Linked DNA regions of Homo sapiens: region 1 is linked to region 2. Evidence: fine-mapped QTL for protein levels in blood plasma. Region 2 holds a variant in brackets. A gene starts in the other region. All regions are shown on their forward strands.

Evidence for each region. PIP is the posterior inclusion probability: the model's chance that the variant is causal. Protein levels are from antibody-based Olink assays in UK Biobank. Linkage for the fine-mapping came from a reference panel and not from the study's own genotypes, which makes the PIPs less certain.
Region 1: it holds the start of BLMH, and the variant in region 2 is fine-mapped to the plasma level of the BLMH protein (UK Biobank, PIP 0.94).

The regions. Positions count from the first base shown.
Region 1 is chr17:30,286,987-30,295,322 of GRCh38, forward strand. BLMH (bleomycin hydrolase) reads right to left here and starts at 4,958. Exons shown (of 12, transcript NM_000386.4): 1 at 4,821-4,958; 2 at 4,325-4,522; 3 at 2,387-2,496; 4 at 820-961. The coding sequence starts at 4,833. LOC124903971 (a long non-coding RNA gene) reads left to right here and starts at 7,704. Exons shown (of 2, transcript XR_007065700.1): 1 at 7,704-8,336. It also overlaps the pseudogene RNU6-1267P. RefSeq lists an enhancer at 4,179-4,238 and silencers at 4,689-4,758, 4,959-5,368.
Region 2 is chr3:51,901,130-51,909,465 of GRCh38, forward strand. It overlaps IQCF1 (IQ motif containing F1), which reads right to left and starts at 2,224. Exons shown (of 4, transcript NM_152397.3): 1 at 2,141-2,224; 2 at 1,856-1,960. The coding sequence starts at 2,143. RefSeq lists an enhancer at 782-1,981. The variant C/T (reference allele first, on the strand shown) is at 4,864.

The sequences.
Region 1 (8,336 bases), not on the chromosome of region 2:
ATATTTTGCTGGCTTACTTCAGAAAATCTTATACTTCATATTATGAAGCAGGGTTTTTTGTTTTTTGTTTTTTGTTTTTGACAGAGTTTTGCTCTGTCACTCAGGCTGGAGTGCTGTGACACGATCCTGGCCCACTGCAGCCTTGAACTCCCAGGCTTGACCTCCTGAGTAGCGGCAACTATGGTGCATGATACCATGTGCAGCTATTTGTTTTATTTTCTGTAGAGACAGGGTCTCACTATGTTACCCAGGCTGGTACTGAGCTCCTGGGCTTGAGCAATCCTCCTGCCCTGGTCTCCCAAAGTGCTAGGATTACATGCCTGAGCCACCTTACCCAGCCTAAGTAGGTTTTTAATGTGCATATTTATCTGTCTATGTTATCCTTTTTATCTACTATACTTTGTCACTTCTCAGCCTTTTGGTCAAGCTCAAGTGTATCTATCATACTTTTGTAAAGTGCTCAGCATGATGAGATTTCCCCAAAAGATGTTTTGAAGACATTTTAACACAGCTACAGTTTTAATGTGTTTCCTGATTACATCAATGGAGAAGAAAACAATTTTTTCATGGAAAATTAGTTCTCCTTAATACTACCTTTTCTTCTCCAACCCATCCTTCACAGTAGCTCTCTCCTTAATCCTCATTTAAGAAGGCACTTTATAGGTGAGAATGTGAACTAAAGGTCCTTAGAAATAACTATATATCCTTCTTGGAGACCAATTCTACTCTGTACACAACCACCAAAGAATTGGCCCATGCCTAACTACAGGCTTACTTAATCATGCTGAGTTTCAGTTCCATTAAAGAAAGAACTTTTACCAACAATATTAACAAGCATATCCCATTGGCCACCATCATTTGCAGGGTTCATAAGCAAAAACTGCACCAGCCTCCCATCCTCAGGCTCCTTTCTCTGGGCTGTGTCCACAAAAGCACTCAAGAAGAAATAACAGCGTTCAACCTAAAGAGTAAAGAAAGTTAAATAACATTAAAAGAAAAAAGTGTCAATAATTTTATTGGCATTATCAACAGAATGGGAGTCTTGGAATTACCATGGAATCAACATAATAGTTTTTTTTCTTTTTAAAAACATGAAACCTTCATGAATTTGCATGTCATCCTTGTACAGAGGCCATGCTAATCTTTTCTGTATCACCCCAGTTTGGGGACTTACGATGCTGAAACAAGCACCATAATAAGTATTTTTAAACTAAAATTGGTAAATAAACATCAGTATCTGACTTCATCAGAATATCTGAAGTTTCTTCTTTTACCTGTGTATGTATCCCAATATATTGTGTATATGTGTACAGTGTTTACATTCCAATGCTAAAACAAAACATTTAATGAACACCTATGTAATATATATTTTATTTACTTATTTATTTTTAGACAGGGTCATGCTCTGTTGCCTAGGCTGGAGTGCAGTGGTGCAATCTCACTGCAGCCTCAACCTCCTGAGCTCAAGCAATCCTCCTACCTCAGCCTCCTGAGTAGCTGGGAGGACAGGTGTGCACCACGCGTGGCTAATTTTTGTATTTTTTGTAGAGATGGGGTTTCGCCAGGTCCAGACTGGTCTCAAATTCCTGGGCTCAAGCAATCCTCTCACCTCAGCCTCCCAAAGTGCTGGGATTACAGGCATGAGCCACCAAACCAGGTCAGTAATATACATTTTGAAGATTAGGAAATGGAATATGGCCAGGAGTGGTGGCTCACACCTGTGATCCCAGCACTTTGGGAGGCCAAGGCAGGCAGATCACTTGAGGTCAGGAGTTCGAGACCAGTCTGACCAACACGGTGAAATGCCCTGTCTCTACTAAAAATACAAAAATTAGCTGGGCATGGTGGCATGTGCCTGTGATTCCAGCTACTTGGGAGGCTGAGTTGAGAGGATGGCTTGAACCCAGGAGGCAGAGGTTACAGTGAGCCGAGACTGTGCCACAGCCCTCTAGCCCGGGTGGCAGGGTGAGACTGTCTCAAAAAAATAAATAAACAAATAAACAATCAAATAAAATTATTTACTGTTTTTCAGACAAGTTCTTGAGAGGGAAATTAGGTCCTAGAAAAGAACAAATAACCTAAAAAGATGTTAAAAAGGGAGATATATTGAATTGAATATTGAATATAAAATTTAAAATTTTAAATAGACAAGCAAGCAGTAAGATGAGTCAGTAAACTTATTTCATTGCAAAAAAATGGCCACCTACCAACCAAAAACAGTTCTGCCTTTGAAAGAGTCAACTTTTGATACTCTGGAAGTCAGAATAAAAGGTGTCTCACCTATTATGAAAGGGCAGGCTATAACTGGAAAAGCTACAAAAGAAGAGGCAGTCCCTACCAAGGCTGATATCAATACAAAAAGAATCTTGCCAGATCTGTCCCATACCTTGTCCCAAAAAAACAGGTAAGATTGGCTAAACTCAAATTCTTCAATATTTAACTTTTTCATGAATGGAAGCCTCATAACATTCAGACAAGAAAAGATCCAGCATCGCCCTGAAACAAGAAAGCACATCAAGAAATTATGAGGGTTCACATAGACTGCACTGCTCCAACTGTATTTCCCACCAATGAACTCATGACACGATCTGGACAATTCAGAAAGAGTAAATCAGAAAGAGCAGAAAGATTAAAAACAAAACAAGAAAGGTGGTAATTATTATTAGCAATATATATGCAAAGGTTTAATATCTTTAACACAAAAACACTCTTTACGTATCAAATAAAGAATCCATTTTTCAGAGTAATGCCTTCTCCAAATTGTACTCTACTTCAAAATAAATTAACTGAGAGCGCCATTAGAAAAGTCTTTTAAGGTCTTAAATACAGGGAAATTATCTCTTTTCTGAGGGAAAATTCTGAGGGAAAAACTTTGACTTGTATTGGGTATAACCTTTTTACTAATATGAAAATATGTTTATAATATATTGGTAAGTGAAAAAGATAGGTAGCTTACATAACAATGTATAAGGTATCAATGCATATTAAACACTATTAAACACACACACACACACAAAACTTGACAAATATACAAGAAAAATATTTACTTGGTATTTACAAATATTCTACATTAAACAAAAATAATTTTGTAACAAGAAGAAAACTCTAGTTAACTATAGTGTTTTATGAAAGTCACTAGTGCCTATTAGTTCGTCTTTACCTTACATTTACCTGTATGTCACCTCTCTTCTATATGCTATATATTTCTAGTAGAGGGGATCTGGATGCACTGGTGATGTGAAAACTGCATGAAAATAAACTACACAACTCACATGCTATTTGGATCTTTTGTATGTAAAAGTGACACTGCAAAATGTGTAAGACCTGACCTGTTCCCTAACGGGTCACTGCAATCTAAACTATGTAGGACCACTGTGACATTACTAACTGGATCATCTGTAGCCTGAGAGCCCACACCACTCCAAGCACTTTCTTCTAAAGCAAAACATTAATTATTGTAAGGTCTTGACTTTTTCCTTAACATTTAAAAAATCAACTTTATTCAGGTATAATGTACATACAATAAAATGTACTCACGTTAAATGTGTGCTTTGTGAGTTCTAACCGACTCTAAACAAGCACTGATGTGCTTCCTGTCCGTATAGATAGACTGGGGGGTCGTTTTTAAGTATAGAAAGACTTTAAAAAATCCGTTTAGTACAATTTTGTTGTGAGAATGTGCTCCTTATTTAGATTGCTGGATATCCAATCTTTCACTATACCTGTTTTTTCTGAGAGTGGTGCTAGAAAGCAGATAGCAAAACGAGACTTCTTGACCAGCAAGGCATGAGAACAGAACTTTTTTCTGTATTACAAACTGATCTACTGGTGGGAACTGAGCCCATCAGCACATTAGCTTCAGTTGTAACCAAGAAGCATATTTAAAAGTAACATCTGATGACATTTTAATGTAATTACATTGTATCTTTTCTATTTCATAGTATAGGGCCTTCAGGGCATTTCTGGGGAGTCCTCCAAAGATATGAACATTTTCACATGTTCTGTTTTGTGACCAAGACCATACATCTCCAAGACACGGGCTACAAACCACACAGCATTGGAACATAATATAGTCAATTACACTCAAACGTATACTCATGGACATGTCACTTTTGTACTCTAACCGCATGTACTAACAAGCCACAGAACAGCAAAACAAACCACATGGGTAATGTTCTTAGACCTGCCTGTACCTGTGCCTCATTCTTTACGAATTTACGACCAGTTCTTTCAGTACGAATTTAAGACCACTCTTAAATAAGACACCAAAATGGGACGCTGTCAGGAAGGTCAAGGAACGTATGGGAGAAGTGGAAGCCCACACCTGAGCTCTTCTGGTTGGTGATTGGCTTGCCCTCCTGGGGCACGGCGTGCTGGAACACATGCTGCGCGCGCTGCACCGTGGCCCGCTTCAGACAGATGTCCAGCAGGTCGTGGGTGGTCCCGACATTCTGGGCAAGTACGAACTGGGGGTCGGAATTCAGTTTCTGTATCAGAGCAGCTACCTTCTCCGAATTCAGTCCTGTTGGGAGACCAAACAGGATTTTAACGCAAAAAGAGGGGGAAAGGGCTGATCTGGGGCTCCCGCGTCCCGAATCTAACTTCGTAAGCGCATCCTGGGGTGCCCGCTGCAGCGGGGAAACCCATAAGCGGCATCCTCCTCCAAGGAGCTGTCTCCCTCCAGGCCGATCCAGCCTGCCCCGAAAGCTCCCTCCCCGCCATCGCCAAGGGTCCCAGCCCCCGGCCTTCCCCGCCGCCGGGCCTCACGGGGACCGCGGAGCTCCTCCAGAGGACCGCGGCGGGGGACGGCGGCACCTCACCCGAGCTGCTCATGGCGCCCACGCTGCCCGGCGGGGTAACGGTAGCTTCCAGGGTCCTTGGGCGAGCGCCGGGATTGCGCTGCGGCTCGCTGCCTAGGGGGCCCGACCTGTCTCTCGCACCCGGAGCGCCGGAAAAAGGAAACCGGCTCGGCGGCGGCGGCGGCGGCGGCGGCGGGGAGGCTGAGGCTGGGAGAAACGGGGTCCGCGGAGGGACAAAACTCCCCCCTCGCGTTGCTGAGTCAGCGCCGTCGGGGCTGGCCCCGCCCGGGGGAGGGCCGACGGGGGCGGCCTAGCTGACGCGCTGGGTCCGCCAGCGCCCGGGGGCTGAGGCCGCGCCTGCCCCCGCGCAGGACCGCACAGATGGTCTGCGCGCCAGGGCGGCGCCGGCGCCTTCTCCCCCTAGGTTCCCGCCTCCGGGCCGCGCGGGCGCCCTCCCGGGATCAGGCCCGCTCCAAGGAGGGAGGCTGACGGGTTCCCTGTGGGCCCAGACCCCCAGTACTCTAGCATCGGGGAATCGTCCCCAGGAAGCCTTGTGAGAAGCCAAAAGGGAGCTCGAGGCGGGAGGGAGGAGCTGAGAGGTCCCATAATTAAGCGTCGGGCTTAGGACGGGTCGATATGTCACAAGGAATGCACCCGAAGGCTCTTCCTATAGGCTTCGTTTGCTGACCAATCACTGCATTCTCAATGGCAACTTGTTGCTTGGATTCTCATCAGAAGCAAATAATTGTCTTTGAGGGGGAATGGGAACCAAGCTCTTCCCCACCCACTCCAAAGCTACTACCAGAGTTCTACAAATAGACATCTGCTCATTTCAAGAACACTACCCATCTGGTCTTCACGGAGTCCACGAGTGGCTCCTGTATAGTCCAGCATGTCCCGTTGGGTTTAACTCAGGAGGATGACAGAGGCTAGCCGTATGCATCAATATTGTTTCGCCGAGTTCTCTACAAAACTAACTGATGCTCCCCCTCTAGGCTTTCAAGATAACTCAACAGTTTCCCAAAGTTTTGAGATTGTAAAAACCTTGTTTTTGTTGATTCCGTGTTTCATGCCCTGAAATCTCAGCCCTTAGTAAGATGCTGGGATAGAACCCACAGAGAGTAAAACAAAAACACTGAAACCCTGTATCTGCTATTCAAAACGATGAGGTTGAGTGTGTGTGTGTGTAACCTAGAATCTAGGTCTTCTTAGATTGAAAATCATCGCAGTTCTAAGGAACTCTGATATCTGGAAAAATCCATACTCAGGCACCAATCAGTCATTTGAGAAAGCACGGTTTCTATGTCCCTAGAGAGACTCGGCTAAAAATTGGGGCTATAACATAGCAACTATCTTAAGTGGGCCCATCAACCATCCTATTCTGAGGTTCTTTCAATATCTGAAAAAGAAGAGGCTGAAAATTATACAGAAAGAAATCACTGGTCCTTTCACAAAATGATGTTCAAGCATCCTGCCCAATTCAAGTCATAAATTTTTATTCAGTATCTAACATGTACTAGGCACTGGACAAACTGCTGATGACATAGAGACGAACAAAGCTTAATCTTGCCGTTAAGAAACTCAATGTAGTAGGAAAGAGATGCAAAACAACTTTTAGACTATCTGTAGTAGCATACCAATAGTGCTGTAGACTGTAGAAGCAATGAGGAGAGCACTGTCAATTAGGGCCAAAGGGTGCCTGAAAATAGAAGTGACAAGAGAGCATGATCTTGAAGAGTGGATGAGATTTTTACAAGTCAAAGAACAGGAGAAGGGCATTCAAGGCACCAGCGAAGGCGCAGTGAATAAAATCATGTTCAAGAAAGGGTGCATCATAATCGGATGTGGCTAAGAGCAAGGCATGTTTTGGGAGCAGAGGCAAGGTGTAGGACTGGAAAAGTTTTGTAGGTTTGGGCCAAGATATAAAGGGTTTTATGTTCAATGCCTGAGCATCTGGACTTTATCTTATGGTTAATTAGAAGACAAAATGGGTTTTGAAACAAAGGAAAAATATGCTCAAGTCTGTGTAAAAAAAGAAACCTGGTGGCAGTGGGGAGAGTAATTTGGAGGGGAGGGGCTCTGGAGATAGGGAAACTGGTTAGAAGGTTCTTCCAGTAGTGAACTTGGGAGAGGACAAAAGCCTTACATTGCGGAAAGGGAAGAGGCATTGATAATCTTGAAGTTTTCAGCGGAATAAGAAGATGGAAGGTGGTGTCATTAACCAAGAGAGGGCATACAGAAAAATAGGCATATTTGCATATTTGCAAGTGTGCAGATCTGAACTGAGTTTGGGCCATAGCAAAATTAGGATGCCCCACAGGACACCCAGGAAGAGAAGTTCAGGACGTAGATGAAAAGATGTCTAGAGATTAGATGAGACACATAGGTTCGAGGTGGAACAATGAAAGTCAGCAGGGTTACAGAGGGAAAGAGGATAGAGCAATAAAGAGATGAAGACCACAGATAGTGCCCTGGGCTGCAATGTGCAGTTGCACAGGGTGTTCATGGCACAAGGGCACCAGGCTGAGTGTGGTGAGTAGGGACTAAAATGCAGTCCAGGCTCTGCTTGCCAAGCCATGCACCCTGGCCCAGGCTGTGCACAGAGTATGATGTACCTTTCACTACTTTTTTTTTTTTTTTGAGATGAGTCTCACTCTGTCACCCAGGCTGGGGTGCAGTGGCATAATCTCGGCTCACTGCAACCTCCACCTCCTGGGTTCAAGCAATTTGCCTGCCTCAGCATCCTGAGTAGCTGGGATTACAGGCACGCACCACCATACCCGGCTAATTTTTGTATTTTTAGGAGAGACGGGGTTTCACCATGTTGGCCAGGCCGGTCTTGAACCCCTGACCTCGTGATCTGCCCACCTCGGCCTCCCAAAGTGCTGGAATTAAAGGCATGAGCCACCACGCCTGGCCCCTTTCACAACTTCTTATAAGGATGCCATATGGGAGTAGTATTAGCTCTGAAAATGATAATGTTTAAAGTATGGGTGAAGACAGAGGAGCCAGCAGAAATAGAAAGATCAGTCAGCGAAGTAGGAGACCCGGGGAGTTATGTCCTGGAATCCCAGGAAGGCAAGGAGAGGACAGTGAATTGAATTAAAAGCTGCAGAAAGTCAAGTAAGATTGGTTTTGGCAACTGGGTTACAGGCAACCTTAGAGAGGGCAGTTTTAGTGGAAGGGAAGGGTGGGCAGAAGCCACATCGTAATGAGTTGAGAGGGAGGTAAATATTAGGGAAGCTCTTTGGGGAGAAAGGGTAAATTTGTGTCTACTGGAGGATGAGAGGAAGGAACCAGTACAGATGAGAGATTAAATATGTGTCAGAGAGGATACAATTGCAAGAGTAAGAGCTCAGGAGGAGATGGAATCACTGGGGAAGGTGGAGGGGACCAGTTTTACAGCTATTGCCACCCTTTCCATACTGGCGATTACATTTCTCCACCCCATGCCCAGAGATTTCTATCATCATCTCTTTGCTGGCCTCCTGCTCTGTCCTCATCATCAGGGTGGCACCCTTATTACCAGATTTCCAC
Region 2 (8,336 bases):
TAAACAAAAGCAATTGTTATGCTTGTGCACCCAGCAGGCCAGGGGCCCAGAATGTCCCCTTTCCACTAGGGTGGTCCTCCAGTTGACTGGTTGTGGGCTGCATGGTAGCTCTTTTCCAGGATTCTACAGCCTGGAGTAACAAGTCGTGCCATGCTCTTTCTCTCTGCTATATTCTGAAGTCTGGCACCCTGTGGGTCGGCCCCCGAGGGTCATCCAGCTTCCATCTCCCAATACTAAGTTCACTTCATGTCTCTCACGACAGGGAGGAAACTTAGCATTCCTTGGAGACCTGAACGGATGCAGTGAGCTTAAGAATTTTCAAGAGCTTATCAATCAGTCAGCCCTTGTTCATCCCCGAGGGGATGTGTGGTGGTATTGTGGTGGACCTTTACTGGACGCTCTGATGAATATCTGAAGTGGCACTTGTGTTTTAGTCCAATTGGCTATCCCTTTCACCCTGGCATTTCATCAACCAGAGGAAGGAAAAATAAGACATCGTAAAGTGAGAGAAGCCCCTTATGGGTCTTTTGACTCTCACATCTATTTAAATGCAATTGGAGTCTAGCAGGGAATACCAGATCAATTTAAAGCCTAAAATCAAATAGCTGCAGGATTTGAGTCAATATTTTGTTGAGAGACAATTAATAAAAATATAGATTGAATAAACTACATATGCTACAACCAACAGCGATTTATTAACTACACTAGAGATGGTGTTAAAGGAATAGCTGAGCAATTAGGGGCTACTAGCCGGATGGCTTGGGAAAATAGGATAGGCTTAGACATGATAATAGCAGAAAGAGGAGGAGTTTGCCTCATGATTAAAACTCAATGTTGTACCTTCATCCCAAACAACACTGCCCCTGATGGAAGTATAACAAAGGCATTGCAAGGTCTGACTGCCCTGTCCAATGAGTTAGCCAACAACTCAGGGTTAAATGAGCCCTTTACAGGATGGCTAGAAAAGTGGTTCAGTAAATGGAAAAGAATTATAGCCTCAATTCTCACTTCCCTGGCAGCCGCAATGGGTGTATTTATTCTTGTTGGGTGCTGTGTCACACCATGCGTCCGTGGGTTGGTGCAAAGAGGCTCATAAAAACAGCACTTACTAAAACCTCCCTTAACTATTCTCCACCTTATCCAGAGAAGCTTCTTCTTTTGGAAAATCAAGCAGAACATCTAAGCCAAGACATGTTAAAGAAGTTTAAAGAGAAAGAGCTGTAAGGAAATGCAAGAGGAGAAGTTGTTAGGTATGAGTTCTAAATTTCTCTTCAAAGAATCAGTATGTCAATATGTTCAATTCTTTGCCTTCTACTTTTAAACTTAACTTCCTTGTAAAGCAACCTTTTTCAATTACCTGCTCCGCCCTGACTCATTCTGATTACCTACTCCCCCCTGACTCATTCCGATTACCGGCTCCACCCTGACTCATTCCAATTACCTGCTCAGTCTCCACCCTGACTCATTCCGATTTCCTGCTCCGCGGTAACCATTTTTCCCACCAAACCACTCACCCCATCACTCTCTTTAAATTAGCCAATCAGAATTAGTTTAGCCTGTGTGGTCTAACCCTAGCCAATAGGGGAATGACACAGCAGCAGGGGCCACGTGCATCAGGGATAAGAACCCCTTCCCCTCCCTTGTCCAAGTGTGCACTCACCATTGCTCCATCTGTAAGGGCGCACCCTTCTATAGAAGTACCTTGCCTTGCTGAGAATTAAAAAGAAAATTTTATATTTGAGTGCTATTTCTTTTGCGGCACAGAAACTTCACTTATAACAGCACCATGCAAAAGACACTAGCTACTAGCACTAGGACATGGGATCAATGACATCCAAGTCAGGGCTCCTCCTACCTCTGCCTTTGACTCTGCTCCTAAGGACAAATGGGTTGGCATCTCCTTCTGCTGAGGCTCATCTTCTTTTGAGGGTTCCTTCGTCTTTTGGGGCTGCTTCTCCTCCTGCAATCAGCATTAGGGGAAAGGCAAGAGTGAGGCTGCGGTCCCTCCCTCTCCATTCAATATGGCACACATCCCCAGCTTCCAGGGCTTCTTAGAGTCTTCAGTGTCAGGGGGTCCCTTCACCCTGAGAGATCTATGGGGACATCCCTAACAAGCCTGGTGTGTCTGGCTTTCTCTTACCATTGGTCACATATGGATTGATTGTAGATGGTTCAAATCCCCTCACATCTGTGTTCATCCAGCCATAGCATAGGCAGGAAGGGTGGAGGAAGAAAGGCCTGTGATGTCATAAGGGCACCTGTGACTCAGGCACCAGATGGCTCCTAACAAGTGAGCCCCCTCCAAGGGAAAGACAAAAGCGCTGCCCATTCTTTTCTGCCAGAAATGGCCAAAGCCCTGACTTCAAAGGCAAGATGCCAGAAATACTGGCCCATTGCTGTAAGGTTTATAAAAAGCCAGTCATTTCTAATAACATTTAATTGAAAAAACTTGGCCAGGCGCAGTGGCTCAGGCCTGTAATCCCAGCACTTTGGGAGGCCGAGGCAGGCAGATCAACTGAGGTCAGGAGTTCGAGACCAGCCTGGCCAACATGGCAAAACCTTGTCCCTACTAAAATTACAAAAATTAGCTGGGTGTGGTGGCTGTCACCTGTAATCCCAGCTACTCAGGAGGCTGAGACAGGAGAATCGCTTGCACCCAGGAGGTGGAGTTTGCAGTGAGCCAGGATCATGCCACTGCACTCCAGGCTGGGCAAGAGAGCAAGACTCCATCTCAAAAAAAAAAAAAAAAGAAAAGAAAAAACTTATATAGCCAACTTAAATAATCAATAGGGGATTAATTTAATGATGCATAGTTCATTCATACTATAAAATACTACATAACTATTAAAAATAAGAATTTGATCTATATTACTAATGAGGAAATATATAAAGATGTATTTATAAGTAAAAAACTAAAGTTCCTTTTGATCCCACTATGCAAACAAAACTAGGAACATAATTATACACATAAAATTGAATAATTTATGCCAGAAGTTATTACATGATACACATTATATGTTGTAAATGAATATAAAGAAGAAAAAAGGTATATATACCAAACTATTACCAATGATTACCTTTGGAGAGGAGAGTTAAATTGCTGACTCATGCCTAACACAGTCCCCAAGGAACCCCATGAGGGCCTGAGGACCAGCCTGGACTCCATCTGAGGCTCAAATGGGTCCAAGTGCTCTCCTGTCTTCCTCTGTCCCTGGGGTCTCAAGGCCACAATCAGATGGATGAAGGTGGCCACTGCACAAGCATGGCCCCTTTCTGCCTGATCTCGGCCTCTGAAGACCCAGCTGGACAGGGTAAGGCCATGAGAGGCACAGCCCCTGGGGTCACTGAGAAGTGCACTTGAAATGTATAGGGTGAGTATGGGAGAGGCCAATGTGGATCTGTAGGGGGAATGTAGGGAAGAGGAGGAGGCCATTTGAGGCTGGGATGTGAAGTTAATGGGATGAGGGGGTGGAGAATATGGGAATACATTGAAAGATGTGGGAAGTTGTGGGTGTGATATAGTTTGGCTCTGTGTCCCCACCCAAATCTCATCTTGAATTTTAACTCCCGCAATTCCCATGTGTTGTGGAAGGAACCTGGTGGGAGGTGACTGAATTATGGGGGCAGGTCTTTCCTGTGCTGTTCTCATGATAGTGAATGAATCTCAAGAGATTTGATGGTTTTAAAAATGGGAGTTTGGGCTGGGTGCAGTGGCTCATGCCTGTAATCCTAGAACTTTGGGAGGCTGAGGCGGGAGGATCATGAGGTCAGGAGATCAAGACCATCCTGGCTAACACGGTGAAACCCCGTCTCTACTAAAAATACAAAAAATTAGCCAAGTGTGGTGGTTGACACCTGTAGTCCCAGTTACTGGGGAGGCTGAGGCAGCAGAATGGCATGAACCTGGGAGGCAGAGCTTGCAGTGAGCTGAGATCATGCCACTGCACTCCAGCCTGGGCGACAGAGCAAGACTCCATCTCAAAAAAAAAAAAAAAGGCAGTTTGCCTGCACAAGCTCTCTTTGCCTGCTGCCATCCATGTAAGACGTGATTTGCTCCTCCTTGCCTTCCACCATGATTGTGAGGCCTCCTCAGCCATGTGGAACTGTAAGTCCAATTAAACCTCTTTCTTTTGTAAATTGCCCAGTCTTCAGTATGTCTTTTCAGCAGCTGAAAATGGACTAATACAGTAAATTGGTACCAGTAGAGTGGGGTGTTGCTGAAAAGATACCCAAAAATGTGGAAGCAACTTTGGAACTGGGTAACAGGCAGAGCTTGGAACAGTTTGGAGGACTCAGAAGAAGACAGGAAAATGTGGGAAAGTTTGGAACTTCCTAGAGATTTGTTGAATGGCCTTGACCAAAAAGCCTGATAGTGATATGGACAATAAGGTCCTGGCTGAGGTGATCTCAGATGGAGATGAGGAGCTTCTTGGGAACTGGACCAAAGGTGACTCTTATGTCGCCAAAAAGAGACTGGCAACATTTTGCCCCTTCTGTAGAGATTTGTGGAACTTTGAACTCGAGAGAGGTGACTTAGGGTATCTGGCAAAATAAATTTCTAAGCAGCAAAGCATTCAAGATGTGACTTGGGTGCTGTTAAGAGCATTCAGTTTTATAAGGGAAGCAGAGCATAAAAGTTCAAAAAGTTTTCAGCCTGACAATGTGATAGAAAAGAAAACCCCATTTTCTAAGGAGAAATTCAAGCCGACTTCAGAAATTTGCATAAGTAATGAGGAGCCAAATGTTAATCCCCAAGACAATGGGGAATATGTCTCCAGGACATGTCAGAGGCCTTCACAGCAGCCCCCCATCGCAAGCCCAGAGGCCCAGGAGAAAATGGTTTCATGGGTTGGGCCCAGAGTC[C/T]CTGTGCTGTGTGCAGCCTAGGGACTTGGTGGCCTGTGTCCCAGCCACTCCAGCCATGGCTGAAAGGGGCCAATGTACAACTCAGGCTGTGGCTTCAGAGGGTGCAAGCCCCAAGCCTTGGCAGCTTCCACATGGTGTTGAGCCTGTGAGTACACAGAAGTCAAGAATTGGAGTTTGGGAACTTCCGCCTAAATTTCGGAGGATGTATGGAAATGCCTGGATGCCCAGGCAGAAGTTTGCTGCAGAGGCTGGGCTCTCATGGAGAACCTCTGCTAGGGCAGTGTGGAAGGGAAATGTAAGGACAGAGGTCCCACACAGAGTCCCTATTGGGGAACCGCCTAGTGGAGCTGTGAGAAGAGGTCTACTGTCCTCCAGACCCCGGAATGGTAGATCCAGCTTGCACTGTTCACCTGGAAAAGCCACAGACACTGATCGCCAGCCCATGAAAGCAGCTGGGAGGGAGCCTGTACCCTGCAAAGCCACATGGGTGGAGCTGCCCAAAACCATGGGAACCTACCTCTTGCATCAGCATGACCTGGATATCAGACATGGAGTCAAAGTAGATCATTTTGAAGCTTTAAGATTTGACTGCCCCACTAGATTTCGGACTTGCATGGGGCCTGTAGCCTCTTTGTTTTGGCCAATTTCTCCCATTTAGAATGGCTGTATTTACCCAATGCCTGTACCCTCATTATATCTAGGAAGTAACTAACTTGCTTTTGATTTTACAGGCTCATAGGCAGAAGAGACTTGCCTTGTCTCGGATGAGACTTTGGACTGTGGACTTTTGAGTTAATGCTGAAATGAGTTGAGACTTTGGGGGACTGCTGGGAAGGCATGATTTGTTTTGAAATGTGAGAACATGAGATTTGGGAGGGGCCAGGGGTGGAATGATATGGTTTGGCTCTGTGTCCCCACCCAAATCTCATCTTGAATTATAACTCCCACAATTCCCACATGTTGTGGGAGGAACCTGGTGGGAGGTGATTGAATTATGGGGGCAGGTCTTTCCTACGCTTTTCTTGTGATAGTGAATGAGTCTCATGAGATCTGATGGTTTTAAAAAATGGGAGTTTGGGCTGGGCGTGGTGGCTTACACCTGTAATCCCAGCACTTTGGGAGGCCGAGGCGGGCAGATCACCTGAGGTCAGGAGTTCGAGACCAGCCTGGCTAACGTGGTGAAACCCTGTTTCTACTAAAAATACAAAAAATTAGCTGGGCATGGTGGCTTGTGCCTGTAATCCCACTACTCAGGAGGCTGAGACAGGAGAATCGCTTGAACCTGGGAGACAGAGGTTACAGTGTGCCAAGATGATGCCATTGCACTCCAGCTTGGGCAACAAGAGTGAAACTTCGTCTCAAAAAAAAAAAATGGGGGTTTGCCTACAGTAGCTCTCTTTGCCTGCTGCCATCCATGTAAGACACGACTTGCTCCTCCTTGCCTTCTGCCATGATTGTGAGGCTTCCCCAGCCATGTGGAACTGTAAGTCCAATTAAACCTCTTTCTTTTGTAAATTGCCCAGTCTTGGGTATGTCTTTATCAGCAGCCTGAAAATGGACTAATAGAGGGTGTGACAGAGAAGGTGTGATATGTGTTCATTTGAGGATAATAGGATACAGGCCTTTGTTGTAACACTAGTCAGTTTTTTACTTCCCCCAACTCCCAACACTCCCTACACCTCCCCACCAACACACACACACATACTCATGAAAGCCTTGTGCTTCATTATCTGGAAGAATAAACCCCAAACTCCTCACGACCTAAGTAGTGGGCATCGGTTTTTTGAGAGAGAAGAAGACAAAAAAGTCCAGGTGTGGTGGCTCACACCTGTAATCCCAGCACTTTGGGAGGCCAAGGCAGGTGGATCACTTGCACCCAGGAGTTTGAGACCAGCCTGGGCAACATAACGAAACCCTGTATCTACAAAAAATACAAAAATCAGCCAGGCATGGTGGTGTGCATTTGTAGTCCCACCTACTTGGGAGACAGAGGTGGGAAAATCACCTGAGCCCAGGGAGGTCGAGGCTGCAGTGAGCCATGATTGCACCATTGCACTCCAACCTGGGTGACAGAGCGAGACCCAGTCTTTAAAAAAAAAAAGATAGAAAATTTAAATCAAAAATCTAATTACTGATCAGAATATATGGGGTAACTCACATCCTGTGAAGAATAAAAAGCCCTGGCAACATCAAGAGAGGAAATGAAACGTATAAAGGCTGGTCTGGGCATGGAAGGGCTTCCCTCCAGAGTAGCCAGAAAGGAGGAAGAAACGCCACTGCATGGGAATGTCAGAGGGCTCCACCTCCAGTTAGGATGCAGAGGGTCACAAAATACTCCCGCAACAACTGCACAATAAGAAAACACCTGACAAACTTAAAACATCACATAGCAGTAGGTATGGAGCATCTAAAACTGAATTCTAAAGTGGCTCTGTCCCTGTCTAGTTGCACGGAGGTTAGTGGCTGCTTTCATGCCTGTGGATATGTACCAAATCTCTGGACACAAGGACCTGCAGGAGTAAGCCCGCCATATGCAGTGAAATGCTGTGATGGGGAGAAACCAGCTGAACTTGAACTTTCAATGGTTGCATGCGAGCTGCAAGACAATTTGGAATCTGGAAAAGCCACACACACACACACACACACACACACACACACACACACACACACACACACACACAGTGAGTCCTCTGCTGCCACCATTCCCTCCCATGGGACTTCTGCTGGACCCACAGCAGCACAGGGAGCCAGGGGCTGGCCTGGACAGCAGAGAGAGCTCTCAAGTCTCACAGTGCTAATATTCCACACTTTTGCTGGAGAAAGGAGCCTGATCCCAGCCTCAAGACATTTGAAACTGAGGGGGATGCAAACCAACTAAAGTGTCAAAACAGCCCCAACCTAACTGAACTCCTGATTAGTTGAAAAATGGCCCACCCTAGTCTCTACTGCTTTTATCTAGTGTTTGCATACAATTTTAAAAATGAGACACATGAAGAAGCAGAAAAATGTGACCTGTAATCAAAAGGAAAAAAAGCAATAGAAGCAGACTCACAGATGACTCATATGTTAGAATTAGCAAAGACTTTGAAACAACAAAGATTATATAAATAGACATATAATCGAAAATAATTTACAGGTAAAGGTAGAAAAAAATGAATAAAAAGATGGAGAATTTTGGCAGACAAATGGAAACTCTAAAAAACAGAATACAAGAAATGCAATTTTTTTTTCTACTTAAAGAGACAGGGTGTTGTTATATCATCCACTTTAGTCTCAAACTCCTGAGCTCAAGAAACACTCCTGAGTAGTAGGGACTACAAGCACGTGCCACCATGCCTAGTTCTGAAATTCTAAAACTGAAAAATACAATACCCAAAATGAATAGTTCACTAGAGAGAGTAACAAAAGAAAGGATTATCAAACTCAAAGGCAGGTCAAAAAATTATACGAACATGATAAATACAAAGAAAACT